Regions from separate parts of the Homo sapiens genome. Here all the other regions are linked to region 1. Evidence: fine-mapped expression QTL. A gene starts in region 1. Each other region holds a variant in brackets. All regions are shown on one strand. Distances are from middle to middle. Region 1 holds the start of RPL29 (ribosomal protein L29). Region 2 has its middle 11 kb from the start of IQCF1. Region 3 overlaps LOC105377085 (a long non-coding RNA gene). Region 4 has its middle 28 kb from the start of RPL29. Region 5 overlaps PARP3 (poly(ADP-ribose) polymerase family member 3).

Evidence for each region. PIP is the estimated chance that this variant, and not a neighbour inherited with it, causes the effect.
Region 2: its variant is fine-mapped to the expression of RPL29 in whole blood (TOPMed, PIP 0.90).
Region 3: its variant is fine-mapped to the expression of RPL29 in whole blood (INTERVAL, PIP above 0.99).
Region 4: its variant is fine-mapped to the expression of RPL29 in whole blood (INTERVAL, PIP above 0.99).
Region 5: its variant is fine-mapped to the expression of RPL29 in whole blood (TOPMed, PIP above 0.99).

What each region holds. Positions count from the first base shown.
Region 1 is chr3:51,993,012-51,998,111 of GRCh38, reverse strand. RPL29 (ribosomal protein L29) reads left to right here and starts at 2,217. Exons shown (of 4, transcript NM_000992.3): 1 at 2,217-2,255; 2 at 2,643-2,687; 3 at 3,006-3,070; 4 at 3,986-4,590. The coding sequence starts at 2,651. The coding sequence ends at 4,363. RefSeq lists enhancers at 2,113-2,272, 4,026-4,758.
Region 2 is chr3:51,912,105-51,917,204 of GRCh38, reverse strand. No RefSeq gene overlaps it. Among named protein-coding and RNA genes, the nearest start is that of IQCF1, 11 kb to the right of the region's middle. The variant AGGCTGGTCT/T (reference allele first, on the strand shown) is at 3,039.
Region 3 is chr3:51,520,388-51,525,487 of GRCh38, reverse strand. The region is part of intron 1 of LOC105377085 (a long non-coding RNA gene); the gene reads right to left. Among named protein-coding and RNA genes, the nearest start is that of RAD54L2, 16 kb to the left of the region's middle. The variant G/T (reference allele first, on the strand shown) is at 2,066.
Region 4 is chr3:52,021,195-52,026,294 of GRCh38, reverse strand. No RefSeq gene overlaps it. Among named protein-coding and RNA genes, the nearest start is that of RPL29, 28 kb to the right of the region's middle. RefSeq lists an enhancer at 1,986-2,365. The variant A/C (reference allele first, on the strand shown) is at 3,093.
Region 5 is chr3:51,942,524-51,947,623 of GRCh38, reverse strand. It overlaps PARP3 (poly(ADP-ribose) polymerase family member 3), which reads right to left. Exons shown (of 11, transcript NM_001003931.4): 1 at 4,916-5,100; 2 at 4,086-4,270; 3 at 3,407-3,535; 4 at 3,046-3,234; 5 at 2,714-2,846; 6 at 2,400-2,626; 7 at 1,980-2,129; 8 at 1,685-1,771; 9 at 1,281-1,458. The coding sequence starts at 4,268. Among named protein-coding and RNA genes, the nearest start is that of PARP3, 2.7 kb to the right of the region's middle. The variant G/A (reference allele first, on the strand shown) is at 3,088.

The sequences.
Region 1 (5,100 bases):
CCTGCCTCCACAACCTCCTTTCCGCTTCACTCCCTAAACCTCTGCAGTATGCGTCTGTCACTCCACGAACCTGGCTTGTCAAGGAACGTTCACTGGGCATGTGTTTATTAAGCTCTTGCTCTATCTACATTATGCTGAGTTAGGCAGTGGGAAAATGAAGGTGATCAAACCAGTCCCAAACTCTGGGCTCCTATGATAATGGACACATACACAACTAAGTAAACAATGCAATTAGAGTCTGGGAAAGTTCTATAAAGAAAGCAAACCATGGCCGGGCACGGTGGCTTACGCCTGTAATCCCAGCACTTTGGGAGGCCGAGGCGGGCAGACCACCTGAGGTCAGGAGTTCAACACCAGCCTGGCCAACATGGTGAAAACCCGTCTCTACTAAAAATAATTCTTTAAAAATTAGCTGGGAGTGGTGGTGTGCGCCCGTAATCCCAGCTACTCAGGAGGCTGAGGCAGGAGAATCGCTTGAACCCGGGAGGCAGAGGTTGCAGTGAGCTGAGATCGCACCACTGCACTCCAGCCTGGGAGACAGAGTGAGACTGTCTAAAAAAAAGAAAAAAAAAAAAAGAATAGAAAAGAAAGGAAACCATGAGAGGACACAGAATCACTGGTGAGATGAGGCAGTGGTTCTCTATTTTAGATAATGGAGTCCAGGGAGGCCTCTATAGGAAAGAGCACACCATCCAAAAAGCAGGGAGAAGGGCAGTCCAGGTGGCTGGGATAGCAAGTGCAAAGGTCCTGAGGCAGAACACACATTTGTGGTTGGCAGGAAAGAAAGGCAATGCGTTTGGAGAGAAGTAAATGACAGAGGTTGTCAGGGTCAAGTGGGTAAAGAATTGATCTTCAATGCAAGGGGATGTCCTTGCAGATTTAAGGGACAGGATCTGATTTGTATCTTAAAACAAGTCCCCAAGCCCCACTGCCGTGTGGAAAATGAACTATAGGGGGAAGAGGTGGAGAAGGCAACAGAGTTGTTAGAGGCAACAATTTCTCAATTCTGATGTCCAACAGGCATCTCACATTTAATGCATCCAACAAAAATATCTGGCTCATCATTCCCCCTCAAAACAAAACAAACAAAGCCCCTGCTCCCCACTCAATCTTCCATCTCTGTAAACAGCCCACCATTCACCCAGTTGTCAAGCCAAAGACATAGGGGCTATCCTTGCCTCCTTTTTCTCCCTCATCTTCTGTGTCCCAAGTCCAGTACTCTTTCTTTGTCCACTCCTCTGCATTCCCACTGTCCTCCCTCAGGTCCAGGCAGCCCTCTCTCCTTCCTCCCCTCTGCTCCTTCTCCACGAAAGAGTCAGGCGTGCTTTTCTTTTTTTTTTTTGAGACAGAGTCTCGCCCTGTAGCCCAGGCTGGAGTGCAATGGTGCGATCTTGGCTCACTGCAACCTCCACCTCCCAGATTCAAGCAATTCTCCTGCCTCAGCCTCCAGAGTAGCTGGGATTACAGGCACGTGCCACCACGCCCCGTGAATTTTTTTTTTTTTTTTTTTTTTTTTTTTGGATTTTTAGTAGAGATGGGGTTTCACCATGTTGTCCAGGCTGGTCTGGAACTCCTGACCTCGTGATCCGCCCACCTCAGCCTCCCAAAGTGCTGGGATTACAGGGGTGCTTTTAAGAACACAGATCGGCCAGGTGCGGTGGCTCACGCCTGTAATCCCAGCACTTTGGGGGACAGAGGCGAGCGGATCGCGAGGTCAGGAGTTCGAGACCAGCCTGGCCAACATGGTGAAACCCCGTCTCTACTAAAAATGTAAAAATTAGCCGGGCGTGGTGGTGGGCGCCTGTAATCCCAGCTACTCGGGAGGCTGAGGCAAGAGAATCGCTTGAAACCGGAAGGCGGAGGTTGCAGTGGGCCGAGATTGTGCCACTGCCCTCCAGCCTCGGTGGAAGAGCGAAACTCCGTCTCAAAAAAAAAAAAAAAGAAAAAGAACACAGATCTTCTTGCCCAACAACATCCCTCAAGGACTCCTTTCTTTTTCAGTATCTTGAATAAGACTTAAGAGACAGGTCCTGGAGAAACAGAGAAGGGAGGAGGCAGCCTGAAGGGGGCGGAGGCAAGCTCGTAGCACCGCCTCCACGTCTGGCTTGCGTTCTTCCGGGCTTCGGAACTTTTCTTCGCGGAGCCTGGGGAAGCTTTTCCAGTAGTACTTTCCGGCGTTGTTGACCCTATTTCCCGTGCTGCACCGCAGCCCCTTTCTCTTCCGGTTCTAGGCGCTTCGGGAGCCGCGGCTTATGGTGAGTGTTGGCCGCGCGGCATCCGATGCCATCCGCGACTTACGGGTGGCGGCGGGGCGCGGGCTGCGGAGAGGACTGGTGACCGACCGTGTGTCTGTCGGGAGCAAAAGCTGCGGGGTGGGAATGGTGCTTCTAGGTCCTAGGAGGGGGATGGCAGGGAAAGCCACTTTATTGGGGAATGCAGCTTTCCGGGGGTAAGGAGTTGATTTCAGGGCATCATTACCTGGGTTTGGGAGGCCAGGACTGGCGTTTGGTCGTGCAGAGTAAGCCGAGACTCGTGGAGGCTGCACATTCTCTGCCTGCAGGCTCATTCTGACCAGAATGGGGGGGGCAGAGGTGGCCCAGCCTGGCGAGCCCTTAACCCTGATCTCCACTTTTGTCTTCCAGGTGCAGACATGGCCAAGTCCAAGAACCACACCACACACAACCAGTGTAAGTTTTTTGGGCCCTGCCTACATCCCAGACCCTGGCAAGGACTGGTTCAGGCAAACTGGGACAGAGATGAAGGGGCACGTTTCCATTGTGGGCCTGAGGCTGATTGATTTCACCCAGTAATAACTTTAGGGTTTATAGGTTTAGAGATCTACTTGAGATACAGAGTGTTTTGCATTTAGTAGTAAGGGTTTCCCATATCTCAAGTGTAGCTGCTGTAGGAAGTGTTGGTTCTCCCAGACTTGCCAGCTGTGATGTTGGGTGGTCTTATTAGAGGAAAGTTCTTTGTTGGCTTAATTCCCTTTTTTTCTCCCACAGCCCGAAAATGGCACAGAAATGGTATCAAGAAACCCCGATCACAAAGATACGAATCTCTTAAGGGGGTGAGTGCACTGAATCACATGGAAGTGTCTTTTCTTGGTTCCAGGTGCACAGTCAAGGCCTCTCATGTAGTTTTTCTCTAGCTTTGGCTTCTGCCTGAGCACAGCCTAACTGGCCCACCCAAAGCCTGCAATTCCTTTTTCTACCCTACCAGACCCATAATAAAGCTTTCCTTGGTCTCCACAGCCTGAAGTGTAACCCTCTGGTCAGGGTGTAACCTGCCTCCTGAGGGCAGTTTGGCTATCTCCCTTGCTTGGCAGTGGCACTTAGGGTAAGGAGTGGCCTTGTCTGAGTGCGTGCAGGGCACATTCCCACACTGACCAGCCTTATGACCTCCATCTGACCCAGTGCTGGAGTTGGGGTCAGCTTCTCTTCCTGTGTCAGGGGGTTCTAAGGATTAGCTGAGAAGGCTGGAGGGTCTAGGGGAGAGCTGAGCATGTCCCCAGTCTGTTCCTTCCCTTTACTTTTGCTCTCTGTTCCGTGGAGTGAATCACAAACTCTGAGCCTCAGTTTCCCCATATCCCACCTTGGCTATAAGTCTTTTGGACCAGACTTGGTATTTAATTGACACCTTCTTCTAAAGAGGGGAGGGGGTGTCCCTGAGGGGATGTCAGGAAAAAACTTGGTCGAACCCCTGCTGTAGGAAGTTGAAGCCCCACAACCTTGGCAGACAGGGCAGCAAAGCAGCTTGTAATTTTGTTCTTGAAGGAGGTCTGCACAGCATTACCCAGGTGGCGTATTGGCTCCCTGGGGTGGTGGTACACTTTCTCTGGAAATAGTTTCAAGAGGTTGGGTATTTCCACATTTGAGGTTGACTTGATGCTGTCTTTAGAATGCTGGGTACCCCTATGGAGAGGGGCAGCAGGGAGAGACTTGGGGACCCACATGCTGCCACCTGTACCTTTCCTGCTTTTCAGGTGGACCCCAAGTTCCTGAGGAACATGCGCTTTGCCAAGAAGCACAACAAAAAGGGCCTAAAGAAGATGCAGGCCAACAATGCCAAGGCCATGAGTGCACGTGCCGAGGCTATCAAGGCCCTCGTAAAGCCCAAGGAGGTTAAGCCCAAGATCCCAAAGGGTGTCAGCCGCAAGCTCGATCGACTTGCCTACATTGCCCACCCCAAGCTTGGGAAGCGTGCTCGTGCCCGTATTGCCAAGGGGCTCAGGCTGTGCCGGCCAAAGGCCAAGGCCAAGGCCAAGGCCAAGGATCAAACCAAGGCCCAGGCTGCAGCCCCAGCTTCAGTTCCAGCTCAGGCTCCCAAACGTACCCAGGCCCCTACAAAGGCTTCAGAGTAGATATCTCTGCCAACATGAGGACAGAAGGACTGGTGCGACCCCCCACCCCCGCCCCTGGGCTACCATCTGCATGGGGCTGGGGTCCTCCTGTGCTATTTGTACAAATAAACCTGAGGCAGGATTTGTTAGCCTCTGTCTATGATCCTGGGGATGGGTTTGGTTGCTCCATCTGTTGGTGTGGGAGAAGACATGGGTCTGGATGGTGGGGTGTGGGTGGGAGTCAGGAGATGGGGCCCTGAAGTGCAAGAGGAGGACCTAATGAATGAGAAATGATTGGGGGCTTTTGGGAAGCTCGGGCACATAGCTTGCTGGACTGTGTAACCTGCCGAGCAAAGGGAGAAATTTTTTTTTTTTTTTTTGAGACAGAATCGTGCTCTGTCACCCAGGCTGGAGTGCAGTGGTGCCATCTCGGCTCACTGCAAGCTCCGCCTCCCAGGTTCACACCATTCTCCTGCCTCAGCCTCCCAAGTAGCTGGGACTACAGGTGCCTGCCACTACACCCGGCTAATTTTGTTTTTGTATTTTTAGTAGAGATGGGGTTTCACTGTGTTAGCCAGGATGGTCTTGATCTCCTGACCTTGTGATCTGCCTGCCTCGGCCTCCCAAAGTGCTGGGATTACAGGCGTGAGCCAGTGCTCCTGGCCCAAAGGGAGAAATCTTAAACATCCTCATGAGGTCTTAAAGCTTACTGCAAGGGAGGGGAAGGGGCCCCGCTGAGCAGCTCTGCACTCTGGCCT
Region 2 (5,100 bases), 81 kb after region 1:
AATTTTTGGTGGACCTGTCTGCCCTCCTGAGGGAGAGGGAGGGCAGGGCCCTGGTTATATTTTTGTTTTGTTTTATTTCTTTGCTGAGAGCTCCTATCTTTCTATTCATTTAAAAAGAGTTCAGCCAGGCGCCGTGGCTCATGCCTGTAATCCCAGCAGTTTTGGAGGCCGAGGCAGGCGGATCACCTGATGTCAGGAGTTTGACACCAGCTTGATCAATATGATGAAACCCTGCCTCTACTAAAACAATGCAAAAATTAGCCAGGCATGGTGGCAGGCACCTGTAATCCCAGCTACTCGGGAGGCTGAGGCAGGAGAATCACTTGAGCCTGGGAGGCAGAAGTTACAGTGAGCTGAGATCACGCCATTGTACTCCAGCCTGGGCAACAAAATCAAAACTCTGTCTCAAAAATAAAAAAAAAAAAGGGTTCACCTTTGCTTCATGGATAATGGTGATGATAACTGCTTTAAAGTCTTTGATATTTCCAACACGTGAGTGACTTGGGAATGGCAAAAACTGATTGTCTTTTCCCTTGGGAATTAATCAGATTTTCCTGGCTCTTCACGTATTGAGTAATTTTGGATTGCATCCTAGACAGTTTAAATATTACATCTCTGGACAATGTTTAGTTTTTATTTTAGCAGGCAAATCAGTTACGTAAAGGTCAGAGGCTTTGTCTTGCTTTCCGTGGATGATGATTCTAATGTCAGTGTCAGTTTTCAAAGCCTTTTCTATGCTGTTTGAGTCTGCCCTTGCATGTGCTACGTAGGGGTTAGTTTGGGACTTGGTAGTGGTTTTTTGTTGTAGTTCATTTTTCAAAGGATGCTGTAAACCAAAAGCATCCGAGACAAGTCTCAGTTTAGGAGTTTATTTTTCCAAGGTTAAGGACATGCCTGTGACACAGCCTCAGGAAGTCCTAATGACATGTGCCCAAGGTGGTCGGCCTACAACTTGGTTTTATACATTTTAGGGAGTCATAAGACATCAATCAATACATGTAAGATGTACCTTGGTGTGGTCTGGAAAGGCGGGACAACTGGAAGTGGGGGCTTCCACGTCATAGGCAGATTCAAAGATTTTCTGATTGGCAATTGGTTGAGTTATTATCTAACGACTTGGAATCAATAGAAAGGAATGTCTGGGTTATAAGGGGGTTGCAGAGACCAAGGGTTTATGATGCAGATGGAGGCCCCAGGTAGCAGGCTTTAGAGAAAATAGATTGCATGTGTTTCTTATCAGCCTTAAAGAGTCTGTTCTATCAGTCTTAAGGTCTGTGTTGATATTAATAGTAATGAGGCATGTCTGACTCCCACTTTCCATCATGGCCTGAACTAGTTTTACAGGTTAACTCTGGAGTGCCCTTGCCCAAGAGGAGGGGTCCATTCAGGTGGTTGGGGGCTTAGAATTTTATTTTTGATTTATTATGTGCAGCTAAGGCGTGAGCCTGAGACATGTGTTTGTTATACACAGAATTAGGGGATTCCTTTTTCCTTATTTTCTGAACTTTCCTCATTCTTCCACTCCTAGAGATTATGTTCTTGGTTCCTCTGGCCAGAAATATGGATTTGTCTCAGAGTTTTAGACCACCACACTTCCATGCAGTTCCATGTGACTAGAGCTGCCTTCAGGGCAAAGGGGCAAAAGAAATGAGAAAAAATTACTTCTTTCAGACTACAGGGGTCCCGTCCGTTTGTACATTTACTCTAGCTAGGGAGATGATTTTTCAGGTGCCCATAGCACCACCACCGGGACAATGCGGTTCTGTGACTGGGCCTGGCCTTGGGGTAGGGCTAAGAGAAAAAAGAGAAAGAAAGAAAGAAGAAGGATGCTGTCCATACTCTCTAGCATGAGGAAGTGTCTTTTTCTGATCCTCTGATCCAAAATAAGGACTTTCTTTTGGATTATTTACTTTCACACTTGTGCGGTTCTGCATTTTAGGCTATCTTTGACTTTGACTTGACTTTCTTCCCCAATCTGTGTGCTATTGCTACTTTTTCTTTCCTTCTTCTTCTTCTTCTTCTTTTTTTTTTTTTGAGATGGAGTTTTGCTCTTGTTGCCAAGGCTCAGTGCAATGGCCCGATCTTGGCTCACTGCAACCTCCACCTCCCGGGTTCAAGTGATTCTCCTGCCTCAGCCTCCCGAGTAGCTGGGATTACAGGTGCATGCCACCATGGCCGGCTAATTTTGTATTTTTAGTAGAGAGAGGGTTTCTCCATGTTGGTCAGGCTGGTCTCGAACTCCCAACCTCAGGTAATCCGCCCGCCTCTGCCTCCCAAAGTGCTAGGATTACAGGCGTAAGCCACCGTGCCCGGCCGCTATTGTTTACTTTTCAGAGTCTAGTTGACTTTGTATTCTGTCCAGAGTTTTCCATTGTAATCACTGGGAAAGATTGTCTGTAGTGTACTTACTTCATCTTGCCAGCACTGGATTCAATGGTATTTTAAAGACATTTAAAAAGATGATCTTTTCTGTTTGCCCACATAATCACCATTGTGAGGCTTTCATTTCCACCTGCTGCTCTGAGCTTCCACCCGGGACCTTCCTTTAGCATTCTGGCAGTGTGAGTCTGCTGGTAATAAATTATCTCAGCTTTTATATTTTGGAAAATGTCTTTATTTCACCTTCCTTGAAAAGGCGAAGGTATAATTTATATACAGTGAAATGGAGAAATCTTAAATGTGAAGTTAAATGAATTTTGACAAATGCATATATCTCAAATCCACACCTCATCAAGATATAGAACACTCATATCATCCCAGAAAGTCCCTTTGTGTCCCTTTCCAATCAATCTCAACTCCCAGAGGCAACCACTGTTCGAGATTTTTTTTTTTTTTTTTGAGATGGAGTTTGAGATGGGCAACTTTTGTTGCCCAAGCTGGAGTGCAATGGTGCAATCTCGGCACACCACAACCTCCGCCTCCCAGGTTCAAGCCATTCTCCTGCCTCAGCCTCCCGAGTAGCTGGGATTACAGGCATGCGCCACCATGCCTGGCCAATTTAGTATTTTTAGTAGAGATGGGGTTTCTCCATGTTGGTC[AGGCTGGTCT/T]CCAACTCCAGACCTCAGGTGATCTGCCCGCCTCAGCCTCCCAAAGTGCTGGGATTACAGGCGTGAGCCACCACGCCTGGTCCATTGTTCATGATTTCTATCATAATATATTAGTTTTGCATTTTTTTAAAAAACAGGGTTTTGCTCTGTCACCTAGGCTGGAGTACAGTGGCTTGATCCTGTCTCACTGCAGCCTTGACCTCCCAGGCTCAAGTGATCCTCCCACCTCAGGCTCCCAAGTAGCTGGGACCACAGGTGCACACCGCCACACTTGGCTAATTTTTTTTTTTTTTTTTTGAGACAGAGTTTCGCTCTTGTTGCCCAGGCTGGAATGCAACGGCATGATCTTGGCTCACTGCAACCTCCGCCTGTCAGGTACAAGTGATTCTCCTATCTCAGCCTCCCAAGTAGCTCAGATTACAGGCATGTGCCACCACTCCTGGCTAAATTTTTTGTATTTAGTAGAGATGGGGTTTCACCGTGTTAGTCAGGCTGGTTTTGAACTCCTGACTTCAGGTGGCCCACCCACCTCGGCCTCCCAAAGTGCTGGGATTACAGGCATGTGCCACCACACCCATCCTTGGCTAATTTTTTTAAAAACATTTTTTGTAGAGACAGTGTTTTCCTAGGTTGCCCAGGCTGGTCTCAAACTCCTGGGTTCAAGAGATCCTTGGCCTCTTAAAGTGTTGGGATTATAGGCATGAGCCACCACAACAAATGTGCATGTTTTAAATTTGATATAAATAGAATTATACAATATGTTCTGTTTTGCATTTGGCTTTTTTTGCTCAATATAATGTCATGGATAAGATTCACCCATGTTATTGCATGTATCATTAGTTCTTGGCTATTTATTGCCCAATTGTATTTTATTTTATGAATATACCACAATTTGTGTATCCATTATCCTATTTATAGATATTTCACTTGTTCCCAATGTTTGACTATTATGAGTATATGCTATGAGCATTCCTGTACAAGTCTTTTTGTGAATATGTTTTCATTTCTCTTTAGTAAATACCTAAGAATGAAATCGCTGAGTCAGAGAGTAGGTGTAGGTATATGGTTAATTTTAAAAGAAATAGCCAAATGAATTTCCAAATTGGTTGTATTATCAAAAATGTATGAGAGTTTCATTTGCTCTACATCCTTGCCAACATTTGGTATTCTCCTTTTCTTTTCTTTTTTCTAATTTTGGCCATCATGATGGTGGCTTAAATTTTGTCTTTCCCTGATATCTAATGATGTTGAGCAAATTTCATGTGTTTGGAAGCCACTTGAATATCTTCTTTTATAAAGTATTGGTTTAAGCCTTTTGTCCATTTTTATTAGTTTGTTTTTTATTACTGAGTTGTAAGAGTTCTTATATTCTGAGTAGGAGTCCTTTGCCAGATATAGGTATTGTGAATATTCTTTCCTCAGATTGTAGCTTAAGTGCTGTCTTTCTTTCTTTTCTTTTTTTTTTTTTTTTTTTGAGACAGAGTCTTGCTCTGTCACCCAGGCTGGACTGCAGTGGCACAATCTCAGCTCACTGCAAGCTCCGCTTCCCAGGTTCACGCCATTCTCCTGCCTCAGCCTCCTGAGTTGCTGGGACTACAGGTGCCCGCCACCATGCCCAGCTAATTTTTTGTATTTTTAGTAGAGGTGGGGTTTCACCATGTTAGCCAGGATGGTCTCGATCTCCTGACCTCGTGATCCGCCCGCCTCGGCCTCCCAAAGTGCTGGGATTACAGGCGTGAGCCACCGCGCCCGGCCGAGTGCTGTCTTTCGATAAGCAGAAGTTTTAATTTGGACAAAGTCTAATTTATCAAATTTTTTTTGAGACAGGGTCTCACTCTGTCATCCAAGCTGGAGCACAGTTGTGCAAACATGGCTCATTGCAGCCTTGACCCCTGGGCTCAAGTGATCCTCCCACTTCAGCCTCCCTGAGTAGCTGGGACTACAGGCGCACGCCACCACGCCTGGCTAATTTAAAAAAATTTTTTTGTAGAGACAAGGTCTCAACATGTTTGAGTCTGGGCTGGTCTCAAACTCCTGGGCTCAGGCAATCCTC
Region 3 (5,100 bases), 470 kb after region 1:
ACAGATATTTGTACATTCATGTTCATGGCAGCATAATTCACCATAGCTAAAAAGTAGAAGCAACCCAAGTGTCCACAGACAGATAAACGAATAAACAAAATGTGGTGTATAAATTGATGGACTATTATTCAGCCTGTAAAGGAAAGGAAAATCTGACACATGTTATAATATGGGTGAACCTTGAAGACATTATGCTAAGTTAATTATGCCAGACATAAAAGGGACAAATATTATATATTCGACTTATATGAAGTACCTGGAATAGTCAATTTTATAGAGACAGAAAGTACAATGGTGGTTGCCAGAGGCCATAGGGAGTGGGGAATGGGCAGTTATTCTTTAATAGGTACAGACTTTGTTTGAGAAGATGAAAAAGTTCTGGAGATGGATGGTGATGATGATTGCACAATATGAATGTAACGCCACTAAACTGTACACTTAAAAATAGGTAAAATGGGCTGAACATGGTGGCTCACACCTGTAATCCCAGCATTTTGGGAGGCCAAGGTGGGCAGATCACGAGGTCAGGAGTTTGAGACCAGCCTGGCCAACACGGTGAAACCCCGACTCTACTAAAAATACAAAAAGTTAGCCAGGGATGGTGGCACGTGCCTGTAGTCCCAGCTACTCAGGAGGCTGAGGCAGGAGAATCGCTTGAACCCAGGAGGCAGAGGTTGCAGTGAGCCGAGATCGCACCATTGCACCCCAGCCTGGGGAACAGAACAAGACTCCCTCTTGAGAAAAATAAATAAATGAATAAAAATAGCTAAAATGAGTTGGGTTCAGTAGCTCACGCCTGTAATCTCAGCATTTTGAGAGGCCGAGGTGGGTGGATCACCTGAGGTCAGGAGTTTGAGAACAGTCCTACCAACGTGGTGAAACCCTGTCTCTACCAAAATACAAAATTAGCCGGGCATGGTGGTGTGCACCTGTAGTCCCAGCTACTCAGGAGGCTGAGGCAGGAGAATTGCTTGAACCTGGGAGACGTAAGTTGCCGTGAGCCAAGATCTCGCCATTGCACTCCAGCCTGGGCAACAGAGAGAGACTCTGTCTAAAAAAAAAATTAATAAAAATAAAAAAAATTTAAAAAAAATCTAAAGTAAATTTTGTAACATATATTTTGTCACAATAAAAAAGCATTATAAAGGCTGGGGGCAGTGGCTCACGCCTGTAATCCCAGCACTTTGGGAGGCCGAGGTGGGCAGATCACCTGAGGTCGGGAGTTGGAGAACAGCCTGACTAACATGGAGAAACCCCATCTCCACTAAAAATACAAAATTAGCCGGGCATGGTAGCACACACCTGTAATCCCAGCTTCTCAGGAGGCTGAGGCAGGAGAATCGCTTGAACCTGGGAGGCAGAGGTTGCAGTGAGCCAAGATCGCACCATTACACTCCAGCCTGGGCAAGAATAGCAAAATTCCATCTCAAAAAAAAAAGCATTATAAAAATAGATAAATTGGACTTTATCAAAATTTAAAGGTTGGGAAATCACAGACATTATCCAAAAAGTGAAAAGTGCTGGATGCAGTGGCTCATGCCGAGGTGGGAGGAAAACCTGAGCCCAAGGGTTCAAGACCAGCCTGGCCTATCTCTACAAAAAATTTAAAAATTGGCAGGGCGCGGTGGCTCACGCCTGTAATCCCAGCACTTTGGGAGGCTGAGGCAGGCAGATCACGAGGTCATGAGATCGAGACCATCCTGGCTAACAAGTGAAACCCCGTCTCCACTAAAAATACAAAAAATTAGCTGGGCATGGTGGTGGGCACCTGTAGTCCCAGCTACTCAGGAGGCTGAGGCAGGAGAATGGTGTGAACCCGAGAGGCGGAGCTTGCAGTGAGCCGAGATTTTGCCACTACACTCCAGCCTGGGTGACAGAGCAAGACTCTGTCTCAAAAAAAAAAAAAAAAAAAAAATTAAAAATTAGCCACATGTGGTGGCACGTGCCTGTACTCTCAGCTATTTTGGGGCTGAGGTGGGAAAGTCACTTGAACCCAGGAGTTTGAGACAGCAGTGAGCTGTAATCTTACCACTGCACTCCACTCTGGGTGACAGAGCAAGATCCT[G/T]TTTCAAAAAAATTAAAATTTAAATTAAATTTTAAAAATGTAAAACAAAAAACGTGTACAGGATTTTATTTTGGGGTGATGAAAATGTTTTGAAACTAGATAGAGGCTGGAGCAGTGGCTCATGACTGTAATCCCAGCACTTTGGGAGGCCGAGACAGTTGGATCACCTGAGGTCAGGAGTTCGAGACCAGCCTGACCAGTATGGTGAAACCCCATCTCTACTAAAAATACAAAAAAGCCAGGCATGGTGGCGTGGGCCTATTCTCCCAGCTACTCGGGAAGCTGAGACAGGATAATTATTTGAACCCGGGAGGCGGAGGTTGCAGTGAGCCGAGATCACGCCACTGCACTCCAGCCTGGGGGACAGAGCAAGACTCCTCAAAAAAAAAAAAAAAAAAGCCAGGCACAGTGGCTCTCGCCTGTAATCCCAGCACTTAGGGAGGCAAAGGCAGGCAGATCACGAGGTCAGGAGTTCAAGATCAGCCTGGTCAATATGGCGAAACCCTGTCTCTACTAAAGGTACAAAAAAATTAGCCAGGCCCGGTGGTGCATGCCTGTAATATCATCTACTTTTTTTTGGGAGGCTGAGGCAGGAGAATCGCTTGAACCTAGAAGGTGGAGGTTGCAGTGAGCCGAGATTGCGCCATTGCATTCCAGCCTGGACGACAGGGTGAGACTCCGTCTCAAAAAAGAAATAAACTAGATAAGGTGGTGGTTGCATAACACTGTGAATGTACTGAATGCCACCTAATTCCTCATTTAAAATGACTTTATGTTATATGAATTTTACCATAGTTTTAAAGAAAAGGAAACTGAAGCTCAGAGTGATTGAGCTACCTGAGATCTTACAGCCAGTAACTGGTGGAACCATAAACTGAACCCAGATCTGTGAATTCAAATAAAGCATATGTTACACAGTGAGAAAGTAGGTGCATTTACTTTACTTACTTCAGAGGTAAATGACTGTTATGCTGGTGCTTTCTCTCTCCTTCCCTCCCTCCCTCCCTCCCTCCCTCCCTCCCTTCCTTCCTTCCTTTCTCTCTCTCTCTCACTCGTTCTTTCTTTCTTTCTTTCCTTCTTTCTTCCAGAGACAGGGTCTTCATTACCCCGGCCGGAGTATAGTGGCATGATCATAGCTCACTGCAGGCTTGACCTCTTGGGTTCAATTGATCCTCTCTCTTCAACCTCCTGAGTACCTGGAACTACGGGTGTGCAGCACCACATCTGGCTAATTTTTTTTTTTTTTTGTAGAGACGAGGTCTCACTATGCTGGTGCTGGTGTTTTTCTGAGAGCAGGTGTTTGTAAGGGAGGAGGGACGATGCCTTCTGCATAGCAGGCACACAATTTCTGTTTCTCTGAGGAAGGAAAGGGCAATGATTCCCACTGATAAGGCTCTGAGGTCTGGAGAGAACTTAGGATGTTTAGGAGGGGCCATAACTCCCTCAAAGCAATGAAAGGATCTTCCTTAGGGATGGGAGGGAGGGACTAGCTTTTTTCACATGCTTTGTGACATTGGTCAAACTACTTAACCTCCCTGAGCTAGGTTCTTCATCTGTAAAACAGGAATAACATGCTTACAGTGGCGAGAAATTGGGAAATGGCCTATAAACACTTTTTAAAGTGCTAAATGGGCCAAGTATGGTGGCTCATGCCTATAATCCCAGCACTCTCGGAGGCTGAGGCAGGAGGATCCCTTGAGCCCAGAAGTTCAAGACCAGCCTAGGCAACATAGTGAGACCCCATCTCTACCAAAAATAAAAATAATAGCTGGGTGTGATGGTGCACATCTGTAGTCCCAGCTACTTGGGGGAGCTGAGATGGGAGGATTGCTTGAGCCCAGGAGTTTGAGGCTGAAGTGAGGTTTGATTATGCCACCGTACTCTGGGCAACATAGCAAGACCCTGTCTCGAAAAAAAAAAAGCAATTACATAAGGTAAGCTGGGTTCCCCAGACTGAGCTGCACTTTTGCAGTTATCTAGATTGTAGCATCCCATTCTTACTGGAATTGTGTCTGATTGCTCCAGATGGGACCAGGTCAGTCTACTGCAGTAGCCCTAAAATCTGGACAAGGATTGGCTTCTGTGAGCATGTATTGAAAAGGTTATTAGGGTTGCTACTGCCCACACATTCACCATCTGGTGATTCAGTTTCACCCAACAGACCCAGGGGATTTGTTATACAGAGATGAAAACCTCACAGTCCCTAAGGCCCCTGGGAGAAACAGGTGCAGAAACATAATTTCATTTTTTTGAGATGGAGTCTCACTCCATTGCCCAGGCTGGAGTGCAGTGGCACAATCTCGGCTCACTGCAACCTCCACCTCCTGGGTTCAAGCGATCCTCCTGCCTCAGCCTCCTGAGTAGCTGGGATTACAGCCACTTACCACCATGACTGGCTAATTTTTGTATTTTTAGTAGAGTCAGAGTTTCACCGTGTTGGCCAGGCTGGTCTTGAACTCCTGAGCTCAAATGATCCACCTGCCTCAGCCTCCCAAACTGCTGGGATTACAGGCATGAGCCACTGCGCCCGGCCAACAAACATAATTATAATACAGCCTTAACTCCTGTGAGAAGGGGGGTTCAGAAAAGGAAATATTTGGCTCAGACACTTAAGAGTCAAATCCTTCCTTTGGCCACTCCTCACCCATTTCCAGGCCTTATCCTAATCCCATAGCAGTCACCCAATGGGTTGGATGCACAGTAATGTGTGACTGGTCCAGTTCAAGCCAGAGGGTCATCTTTCCCTCCCAGCTAGTAAATCTACTCCCTCTAATGCCCAGCCCAAACATGACCTGTTTTGTGATGGCTCCAAGAACCTGAAGGCCAGCCCTTTTTCTGTGCTTTCTTTGCACTTCACCCCACAAATACTTTTTGGGTAAATTTCATTTTGGTCCTGGAGATGGATTTATACCACTTGGCTTCTGTCCTAAGCCTAAATGTCCATTGGAGGAGTTAGAACAGCAGCAGGCAGTGGTAGTTACACCACTGCAAGAGGGGAGCACAAGGTAAATACTCCCTGAAGGAGCTATAGGAGA
Region 4 (5,100 bases), 28 kb before region 1:
AGTAGGAGTTAGCAGGTGAAAAGGACAGAGAACATATTCCAGGCAGAGAGAAAAACCTGGGCAAGGGCCAGATGGCTAGAGGGACCATGAAAACCCGAGAGCATTTGGGGCAGCTGGAGTGGAGGGAGGGAGTCGAGTTCCAGGGAGGAGGCTGGAGTGTGGGTGGGATCAGGGGCACACAGGGCCTCATAGGTCCAGCACTGGGGAGCCGTGACAGGCCATGCAGAAGGAGCAGGAGGTCAGGGGTGATTTTGAGAGGTCCTTCTCTGGCTGCTGGGTGGAAGGTGGCTTCGGTAGGATTTTACTCCCAAAAGTCTGGAGTTGATTTTGCTGGTGTGGCCAGGGCTGCAGGTTTTGTACTGTTCCCTGTGGTCTCCCCATGCCTGTCTAGACCCAGGGCTCCTGGTCTAGGAGGGCAGGGTGTGGGTTCATGGCTAATTCATTTCTGAGGGCCTAGTGTCCATCACAGGGCCAGACACGTGGCAGGGGCCGAACAGATGTGTGCTGAGTGAGGGAGGTCACTAATGGGGTGCTCCACTTGTCTGTCAATGCCCATGAAATTGTCTGGCCCTGCCTCTACCCGCTGGCTTGTGTCCTCAACCTGGTCAGTCCAGGCAGGATGTGCAGGCTGACAGGCCAGGCATCCAGGAAACAGACTGTGTGCCTCTCCTCACGCGCACATGTTGGCAGCCAGCTGGGGAGGCTCTAGCCTGGAACCCACCTCAGCCATCTGGGGCCATATTCCCAGGACAGATCAGATGGGCAGCTAGTGTTATGCAGCCTGCAGAAGCCCAGGGCCCTACCCACGGAGTCCACCCTGACCCCAGACTCCATTCAGGCCGAGGCGGGAAAGATGAAAAGTTGGGGGCAGAGGGTGGGTAGAGGTTAGGATGCAGAAAACCTTGGCTGGGAGTTTGAGGGGAGAAGCACCTCACTCAAGAAGGACTGTCCAACAGCTGCAGCTGGGCAAATTTACCAGGCAGTTGGTAAGCAGTGAGCTCTGTGTCTGGAGAGGTATGCAAGTGAGATCAGGAGCTGGAGGATCTCCCAGTTCCTCTCTTCCACCCCGTTAGGAATATTCCCCACTAAGCATCCTCTGTCCTATTTGAGCCCTGAAAGCCATCCCTCTCCTGCCCCGGAGCAATCACTGTGGCTGCCACGGCTATGGGGCCTCCCCTCCCCACCTCACTTGTCTCTTCTGTAACACAGGGGTGGGTGAGCTCAGGGAGGTGTTTTCCTTTTATTTCTGCATGCAGCACCAAACAATAATTGCACTTATTCTCAACATCTAGAATAATTTTCTTCTAAAAGAAAACCACAAAAAGTCCCAAGTCAATTAGCAAAAACATAGGAAGCCACCTTCATTTCAGGTCACGTGAAATAAAACCCGTGTCCCATGTTTTCCTTGAAGTAAATTTAATTATTTCTCCAAAGGCCTGAGGCCATGTGGAAGGGGCCTAAGGGAGGCCAGTGTGAGAGATCCCAAGGAGCCCTCTGTTTGGGTCAGGCAATGGGTCCAGCCCTGCTTCTGCACAGCACCCCCCACCCCCTCACCCCTGCTCAAAGGCCTCCTCCCTGATGAAATGCAATCCTCCCAATGTGGCTGACTGACACTCCTCCCCACCCCCTAATCTGGACAAACCAATGTTTCCACCCACTTCTTGATGCCCACTCCCTCACTCTCTGCTCCTGGGATTTTCGTTCAATGCTCCTTCCTCCTATAATTGTCTTCCCCTCTCTTCCCCTCACCAAGAGCACATTCATTTTTTGGGGTCTCAGTTTATATGCCTCTTCCTCCAGGAAGCCCTCCCTAACCTCACCAGGCATTCCCACAGCCACCTGTGCACCTTCTCATTCTGTCCTGTACCTGGCACAGAGAATGTACCCAGAAAGTGTTTTTTGAATGAATGACTTCCCCCCGGAAAATGACCTCAGAACTCTGGGTTGGCCTTATCTGAACCATGCTGGCTCTAAGTTCGTTGTCAAACCCCAGAAGGGTACAGGCTTCCCCTGAGCCCTGGATGCTGGTCTGGGACCTGGGGATCCCTGAACTGAGGGGCAGGAGGGTGTGTGTGTCCTGAATTCTTTCTGAATGTGGTCCTGTGATCTGGGACTAGACCAACTGAGGGCCCTCTGTGAACAGGAAGCAGGAAGGAGAGCCGGGCCTCTGTTCTCCCACCCAGTCTCCAATTTAGAGGAAACGCAGCCTATAATTTGGAAGGCTAATTTGGTCTGGGGTTAGAAGGGAGCTCTCTGTGTGCCGAATGATGCCACGCTCTCCCAGGGGAGGAAGCATCCCCTCCCTGGGGACCTGGGGCCTCTGCTCTCAGTTCCAGGCCACACTGCTCCAGTGTGCTCCCTCCTGAGGCCTGAGCTGGGGCCCCTAGAGAGTCAGGCAGCCGGTCCTCAGCCAGGGGAGAAGGAGGGAGGGAGAAACCCAGGGCCACACTCCTTGGTCACTGACTGTCCGGTCCACTGACTGACTGGTGCTCCCGGCATCAGGAAGAACTAGTGGAGGGTCTCCAAGGACCAAGTCCACATGGTGAGCATTGCCCCAGGGTGCCCCTGGCCAGCAGGTCATGCCCATTCAGGCAGGAGCTCAGGAGAAATGTGGGCAAAATGGGCATTGTAATGACCTGGTCCAAGAAGCCTCACTCTCTAGCAACCCTGACCCCAATTCCTGCCACTCCCCGAGCTTAGGCACACTGAGTCATTTAAGGTCCTTCCCAGCATGATGGCCGCTGTCATGCTGCTTTTCCTCCTCCCCTGGGAAGTCCTCCATGTCCACCAGGCTGGTCAGGAACTACCTCCAGGCTCCTTGTCTAACAGGTACCTGGTTGCTTCCCCATTGGGATAGGGGCTCTGTGAGAGTGGGTTCCAGTTGTGGTCACCTTGGTGGTCAGAGCCCTGGCCAGGGCCTGGCTCAGCAGAGCTAGTGATGACGGACAGGCAGAGAGGCTGCACCACTCACAGATGTATGGCCTTGGGCAAGGCCTGGCACTTCCCTGGGCCTCAGTTTGCTTGTCTGTGGGCTAGGCACAGAGCAGTAGTTCAGTATTTGATGACTAAGTGAATGAATGCATGCATGCATG[A/C]ATGAATGAATGAATGAATGAATGAATAAGGAGTTGGACTGGACAGTCTCCAAACCCTGGAGCTCAAATCCTCTACAGTTTCTCTCTCCTCATTTGAGTGCTAGTCTCTCTGCTCAGGCTTGTGTCAGCAAGGACTGGGGAGGGGAGAGGTCCTGGGGTCAGTCAGGGCAGACAGGAGCTGCAGGGAAGCTGAACGCTGGGATAGGGTGTCGGGTGACAGGGTCTGGGGAGAGGCGGGGCAAAAGACTCTTCAGGGTGAGGGGTGAAGGTGCCCATCCCTGGACCTGGTGTTCCAGGACCCCAGCCTGCCTGCGGCAGCGCGCCATCCCCACGACACACCACCCCAACTCACCCACAACCCAGTGGCTTCTCTTGAAACTTCTGCTCGGCTCCAACAGTCTGTCACTGGGGCTGGTGATTCACACACTCCGCTCTTCTTTCCTCTTCCCAACTAATTATAGCTCCTGCGTGTTTTTCCCCCTGGAAAAATGTCTTCTTAAAAAAAATATATCCCCAAGCCAGTGAAAATTAATTGGGTGAGCATCACTGTGTACAATTCAGACTGGCTCCGAAGACAGGCAGGTCCCAGGTTGTGGGGGCGTCTACTGCCCAGCAGAGGAAGGACGGGCGTGGGACGCAGGGTGCACATGGGGACAAGCAGCAGAGGCTCCACCCAGCCCCCATCCGACTGGCCATGGCTCTGGGGATCCTGAAGAATAACCGCCACAGTGATGGTAACGGGGACTCTACTGAGCGCCACAGCATGCTGGGCACAGTGCCAGATGCCTGCCATGTGCATTGACATTTAACCTTCTGATGCCTGCTGAAGCTGGCCTTGGAATTGGTTCCACTCTGTCGAAGAGGAAACTGAGGCTCAGAAACTCATCCAGGGTCACACAGCCATAGTGGGGGCGTTGGGGGTGACCATGAGCCATGTGGTGCTGGGAGTTGGGAGCCAGGGTGGGGGGGCATGGCCAATGGCCTGACCAAGGGGAGGCCCAGCATCATTAGGCTCCCCAAGGGACAAGCAGAGCAGGCACGCGGCCCTCTGTCTCGTCTCTCCCTCGCTTGCCTCCTGGGAATCACAGGAGCTCCCCTGGCACTGGGCCAGAGCTGAGACTACAAGTCCCCTAAGCTCTTCATGGGGCCCAGTGCGTGGCAGTTGGAGCAGATGTCTGAGCAGGCATCCTGGCCAGGCAGGGAGGGTTCCAGAGTCACAATGACAAAGAGGTGGAGATAATCAGAGACAGGACAAGAGAGAGCCAAGCAGAGCTAGAGAGGGGACAGGGAGTCACCAGTCCAACTGCAGAGGCAGAGAGGCAGAATGGAGACTGAACCAGAGACACAGCCGGGTCTGAGTCTGAAACCAAGGGACAAAGATAAAACCCAGGGAAACAAGATGGAGAGACACAAGGGAGAACCAGAGGGCTGCTGTGTAGGAGACAGCCTGGAGAGAGGCAGCACCGAGAAAAGAACAGGAAAAGGAAGGTGGAGGCCCACGGCCTCAGGCCAGGCCTTGCTGGGGAGGGTTCCTAAGAGCAGGGGCAGGCAGGGGTGCTCCAGGCCTGCTTTGGGCGTTGGGAACATGGTTCCTCCCAGCCTGTATCAATCTAGGAAGACTGCCTGGAGAGTGGCCCCAGAGCAGGAGAGCATGTGGATGTTAGGACATTAGGAGAACCGAAGGCATGGGGGGCAAGGGAGCAGGTAGGAGGTGGCAGCCACCCTGGGCCCATCCCGGGAGAGGCTCCTTTGGAACCCGGTCTCTGAGGGTGGCCAGTCTCTCCCTACCCCAGCTCAAAGGCAAGGACCCTCCCCAGGGGCTGAGGAAAATCCAGGCAGAGTTAGGCCAGCTCATTTCCTGGATGGAGAAGTGAAGTCAGTCTGAGACAACCCCTCAGCACCCCAGTCCCCACCAGCCATTAGGAAATAAACCCCCTCTACCAGCTCCAAAGGCCAGGGGCCTGTCTCCCTCCTTACATTCCTAAGCTAGAGCCAGGTCTCCTTCAGC
Region 5 (5,100 bases), 50 kb after region 1:
TCACTCTCCCCCAACCGTCACTCCCTCCTTGTCCCGGCCTGCTCCCTCCCACCTCACTGTGCTCCCTATGGCCAGGCATCTGTACCCTCTGCTGTCCTCACCAAGGTCAGCAATGGCCTCCCAGTGACCAAACCCGTGGCAGGGGCTTTTCTCCCTGGCCTGCTCTGCTGACTTTGCTCCTGACATCATCAGCCCCTACCTGGGACTTCCTCGCGCTGGCTCTCCTAAGCCCTCCACCCCGCCACTCTTTCCTAAGCCCCTCTGCCCTCCTGGTGGACCCCTTGCTCTTGGTGACCTCAGGCATCCTAGAACTTCAGCCCCATCTGTTCTGGGATGAATCCTTGGTCCTTGCTCTCTTGGCCAGCTGGGTGGTGGCCTCCAATGATGGGGACAGCCTGGGTGGAGGAGCTGGTCTGGGGGGGTCATTTTGGTGAGGACACTCCTGGCCAGAAACTCAGAAGTCACTGGAGACAGCCTTGACCCTTTCCCACACGCTCCCCATCCCATCTCCTACATGCCCCTCTCATGGGCTCCCTCCCCTGCACTTCCCAGCCCTTGGGCCAGGCACCCATCACATCCAGCCTGGATAAGAGGATGGCCTCTCTGCAGCCTCTGGCTGCTGCCCCCCTCTCCACAGCTGTAGCCACTGGGATCCTGCTACAGACAAGTCCAGCTGGGCTAACCATCACTCTCTGGATAAAGCCTCCTCGATCGTTCTGGGCCCCTAGCCCACCCTGCCCCCGGCTAGGCATTGCTCTGAGCTCCAGTATCAGGAAGTGTTTGGAAGCCCTGACCTGCCACATCCTCACATCCTCCCAGCCTCTCTGCCTATCCCCTTGCCTTGACGTCTCCTCTTTTTTATTTTTATTTTTTCAGATGGAGTCTGGCTCTGTCACACAGGCTGGAGTGTGATCATAGCTCATGGCAGCCTTAAACTTGTGGGCTCAAGCGTTCCTCCTGCCTCAGCCTCCAGAGTAGATGGAACTACAGGTGTATGCCACCACACCTGGCTCAAAGGCTCCCCTTTTACCCCCTCCCAGGTCTGGTTGGTGCACCCATCCTATCTGTATTGCCTCCCCCAGGAAGCCATCCCTGACCATCAGACACTTTCTCTAAGACCCCCCGCCACCAAAGCCCAGGACAGCCCACTGAGCACTGTAGTCATTAACCATTAAAGGATTCCTCTCTTGGATTCACCATGAATTTCCAGTGGCCAAGGACTGGGCCCAATCCATCTTAGTGCCAACCCTCCCAGGGCTTGGCCCAGAGGGGCACCTCACCATATCCAGCTGACTTGCTGTTCTCTGAGGCAAAGTAGATGCCCTTGCCAACACGCCCACCAGAATGTGGCATGATGCGGAGCCCACTAGTGAGGATGGCGGCCACCACGGCCATGTTGGTGCCATGCCACAGCAGCTTCCGATTACCCAGTTTGGAGTGGGCCTGGAATCTGTCTTCCTGAGTGGAGAGGAAGTGAGAAATGGGAGTGATGCCACCCGAGCACTCAGTCGCCTTGCCCTGCTGCTTGTGACCAAGGCCTAGTGTCCCTCTGCTTACTCACGCGCACTCATGGCCGGCAGAAACTGACCAGAGCTGCTAAACGATTTGCTAAGGGACCGATTAGCCAAGGACATCTTCCTAAGGCACAGTGGTGATGGGGGAGAGGTGGGGGAACCTCCCTCACCTCCCCTTCTTGGTTTACTTTCCAGATGTGTTGAAGTGTAGGGCACCTGTGGTTGCTGCCAGTCTGTTCTAAGTAGGTCTGTATCACCTGTGGGGAGAGCAGAAGCTGGTTGCCAGGGTGGGAGGCTCAGGAGCTAATCCCCCATTTTTCTTCCCCCAGTCCCAAGCCCTCCTCAGGCCCTGGAGACACAGGAAGAGAAGGCTGAGGGCGAGTATTCCTCTGGGCACCTCGAGGGCAGGTGGGCAGAGGGACAGTGCCCACTGATAGCCTGGCCCCTCTGTGGGGCCCAACTCACCTTGTACTCAGGTGCTCCAGAGTCTAGCAGCTGCAGCTGGCACTTGAGAAGCTGGTAGTCTCGGTCCAGGGGGTGTGGCACCTCCTCCACCGTCTTCTCCTGCTCAGAGACTGCCTGCAGGGCCTGGGCCAGCTCGATGTCCGCCAGCACCTAGGATGATGGGCCCTGGCAGTTTGTCTTCCCACTTGACCTCTGGCCTCCCCTCTCCTCTCTCACATGACTGGTATTGTAGCCACCCCACCTGTGTGTCCCACCTGTCCCTCCCCACCCTATCTGTCTGCCCAGCCTTCCCCACCCGTCTGTCAGCCTGCCCAGGCAGTCCATCCTTCTGGGCCTTCTTGGCCACCTGCCCTTCATCTCGCTCGCCTAGGCTGTCTGTTCAGTGCCCCACTGCCTGCCCGCACCCCTGCCAGCCCTCACCAGCAGCATGTCCTTCTTGGCCTGCAGAAGCTCAGGGGAATTGATGGGCGGGGGCTGGCTGTGGCCGAAGTTGTGCGGGATGACGGTGTAAAAGTGTGAGGACAGCTCCTCCAGGCTTTGGCCACCATCCGTGGGGCCTTTCAGGGCCTCCTCCAGCGCCTCCAAGGCCTCGAAACCCCGTGCAATCTGTTGCTTGCTCAGCTTTCCCAGGGGCATCTTCTTCACATCTAGGGGGACAGGGGAGTGGGGAGACTCAGCCCCACAGCCCTGCCACCCTGAGGCCCCTGCCACCCTGCCTGCCTCTCACCCCTCACCCAGGTCCATGAGGGCCATGGTGTTCTTGAACATCTCCTTGCTGAAGATGTTAGTGATGAGCTTCTGCGTGGCTGGGTCCAGGGAGCAGGGCTGCACCCGCTTAGTCACAGTCCTCACTGGGCCTCTGTCCACCTGAAGATAGAGGGCACATGTGGGCAGGAGCAGCGGGGCAGGGCGTGACACCAGACAGAGACCAGCCAGCCTGAGGCCAGAGGGGAGTTCTGTGGCTGAGGCTGCGCAGCTGGGCAGTGGCAGAGCCCAACCAGCGGGAACTCTCCAACGAGTCCCCTCCCTCAGTCCAGGGCCTGCCCACCTTCCTTGGCCATCTCACCTTCACCACAGCTTCCTGGGCCTCATCCTCTGCCTGTACTTC[G/A]ATAAGTGTGTACTTGCCCGGGTGAGACACAAAGTGGTCCCGCTCTGCCCAGTTGTTCTTGGTCTTTTCCCGAAATTTCTTCTCAAAGTCCTTCTTTGCATCTTCTAGCCTTGTGAAGTGGTTGATCTTTGACTGGCCGACCTCTCCCTGCAACCGACAGCCTTCAGGGGTATGCCCACCATCAGCATTTGCTGGCCTGTGTGTCGGGCCAGGCCCTGTGCTGAGTGCCCTGGGACAGTTGGGAGGTGCCCCCCCAAGTCAGTAGCTGTGGCCTTTTGAGGACCCTGGGGAGTATGTGCAGAGCAGGCAGGGCACTCACCACACGGCCCCAGCGGTTCCAGCAGGTGAAGAAGCGGTTGCTGTCTTGGAGCAGCTGGATGATGTAGAACTTGTTGTTGTTGTTCTCGATGTTGGTCTGGTTCAGGGTGCAGTTGTAGTCCTCATACACCTGGGCCAGAGGGGAGGTGGGGGGCAGGCTGGCTGGGGTCAGATGGGGTGCCTGGCCGTACACCGAGAGGGCTCTGATGGGGACAGGAGTCTGACGGCAGTGGGAGTCAGAGGGACCCTGTCTTGGAAGCTTGGGGGGGTCACTGCTCTTCCCTAGGGGATGCGGTGTGAGAGGACATGGCTAAACCCTGACATGGAGGTATGGGGGGTGCTGGGGGGGACACAGCTGGGCCCTGGATGGGGGAATCTGAGAGGGACATGGCTCTGCCCTGAGGGGACATGGGCAAGCGCCCAGGAGACTGATGTAGTCACAGCCTTTCCCTAAGTGCGGTGGGAGGAGGCCTGCATGGGGTCTGAAGGGCAGATGTGACCCGCCTGGACCTGACGGGACACAGCCCTGATGTCTGGGGTCAGGAGAACATGGCCTTGCTCTGGCGCTTACCTGGGGGCCTTGGGCTCCAAAACCAGAACAGAGTCCTAAGGGGGTGGCCTGGGTGTGTTTGTGCTTATCAGTGGGCAGGCTCTGGGCCTGACTGGGGACTGCAGCTCACCTGGGTCCCGGGGTTGCTGCTGAGTGGACATGTTGGATCCACGCGGATTATGCGCTTCTCTGCGGGTATGGCCTTGAGGGCCTCAGCGGTGGAGCGGAAGGGGTCCTCCTCCCTTCCTGCCTGCCGGCCCTTCTTCTTCTCAGGGCCCTCAGTCTGTACCCAGGGCTTCGGCTTTGGAGCCATGGCTGTCCTGGGGCACAGAGAGGCCCTTAGGCCTCCATGGTCTCCTCATCCCCAACGACCCACTCTCAGTCCCCACCCCTGCCCTGGGCCAGCACAGCACCAACTTGCCCCACCCCGGGTTGGCCCTTCGGTGGCCTCCCACTGCATCCTGTGTCCACTCTGACGGCATTCCCAGCCCCAGACCACACCCAGCTCTTTGTCACTCAGAAACACCCCTTTCCCCAGTCCCAAGTGCAAGGTTAGGACTCTGTCCAGTCTGCCCACTCTGGTCAACAGGGTCTGCCTGGCTCCCTACCCTCTGCAGCTCACCTGTGTGTCCTGAGGGGTAGGGAAAGTGAAAGGAGGCTCTCTCTCTTCCACTTCGGGGCTCCTCCCCCTGTGTCAGCTAGTTCAGCCCTGGCATGGTTGCCGGGCCGAGTCACCGAGCTATGGGGGAGGGTGGGCAGAGGATCCTGGGGGCAGGATTCTTGGGGCCAGATTATCCTCCCGGAGCTTAGAACCCAGAGCTGTAGAAGCCCTTCCCAATGGACTCAAGAGTTCTGAGGAGCCAGAACTCCGGATCAGTGGCCTTGAACTGATAGAGGGCAAAGGCCAGTCCCACCAGGCCTTGCCCTGCCCTGCCGTGGGCAGGACCATAGGACACTCACCCAAGAAAAGCAGGGACATGGGAGAGGTCCTGGCTGCCACCCGGCCTGGTTGTGTGCGCCTCCCAGGGCAGTCCCAGGTCTAGCAACTCTCCATGAGCCTCAGGCGTGAATTAGGGAGAGAATTCCCAACAATCGCCAGAGGCCGGGGATGAGCTTGTGTGGGGGATTAGACATCGGCTATTTGG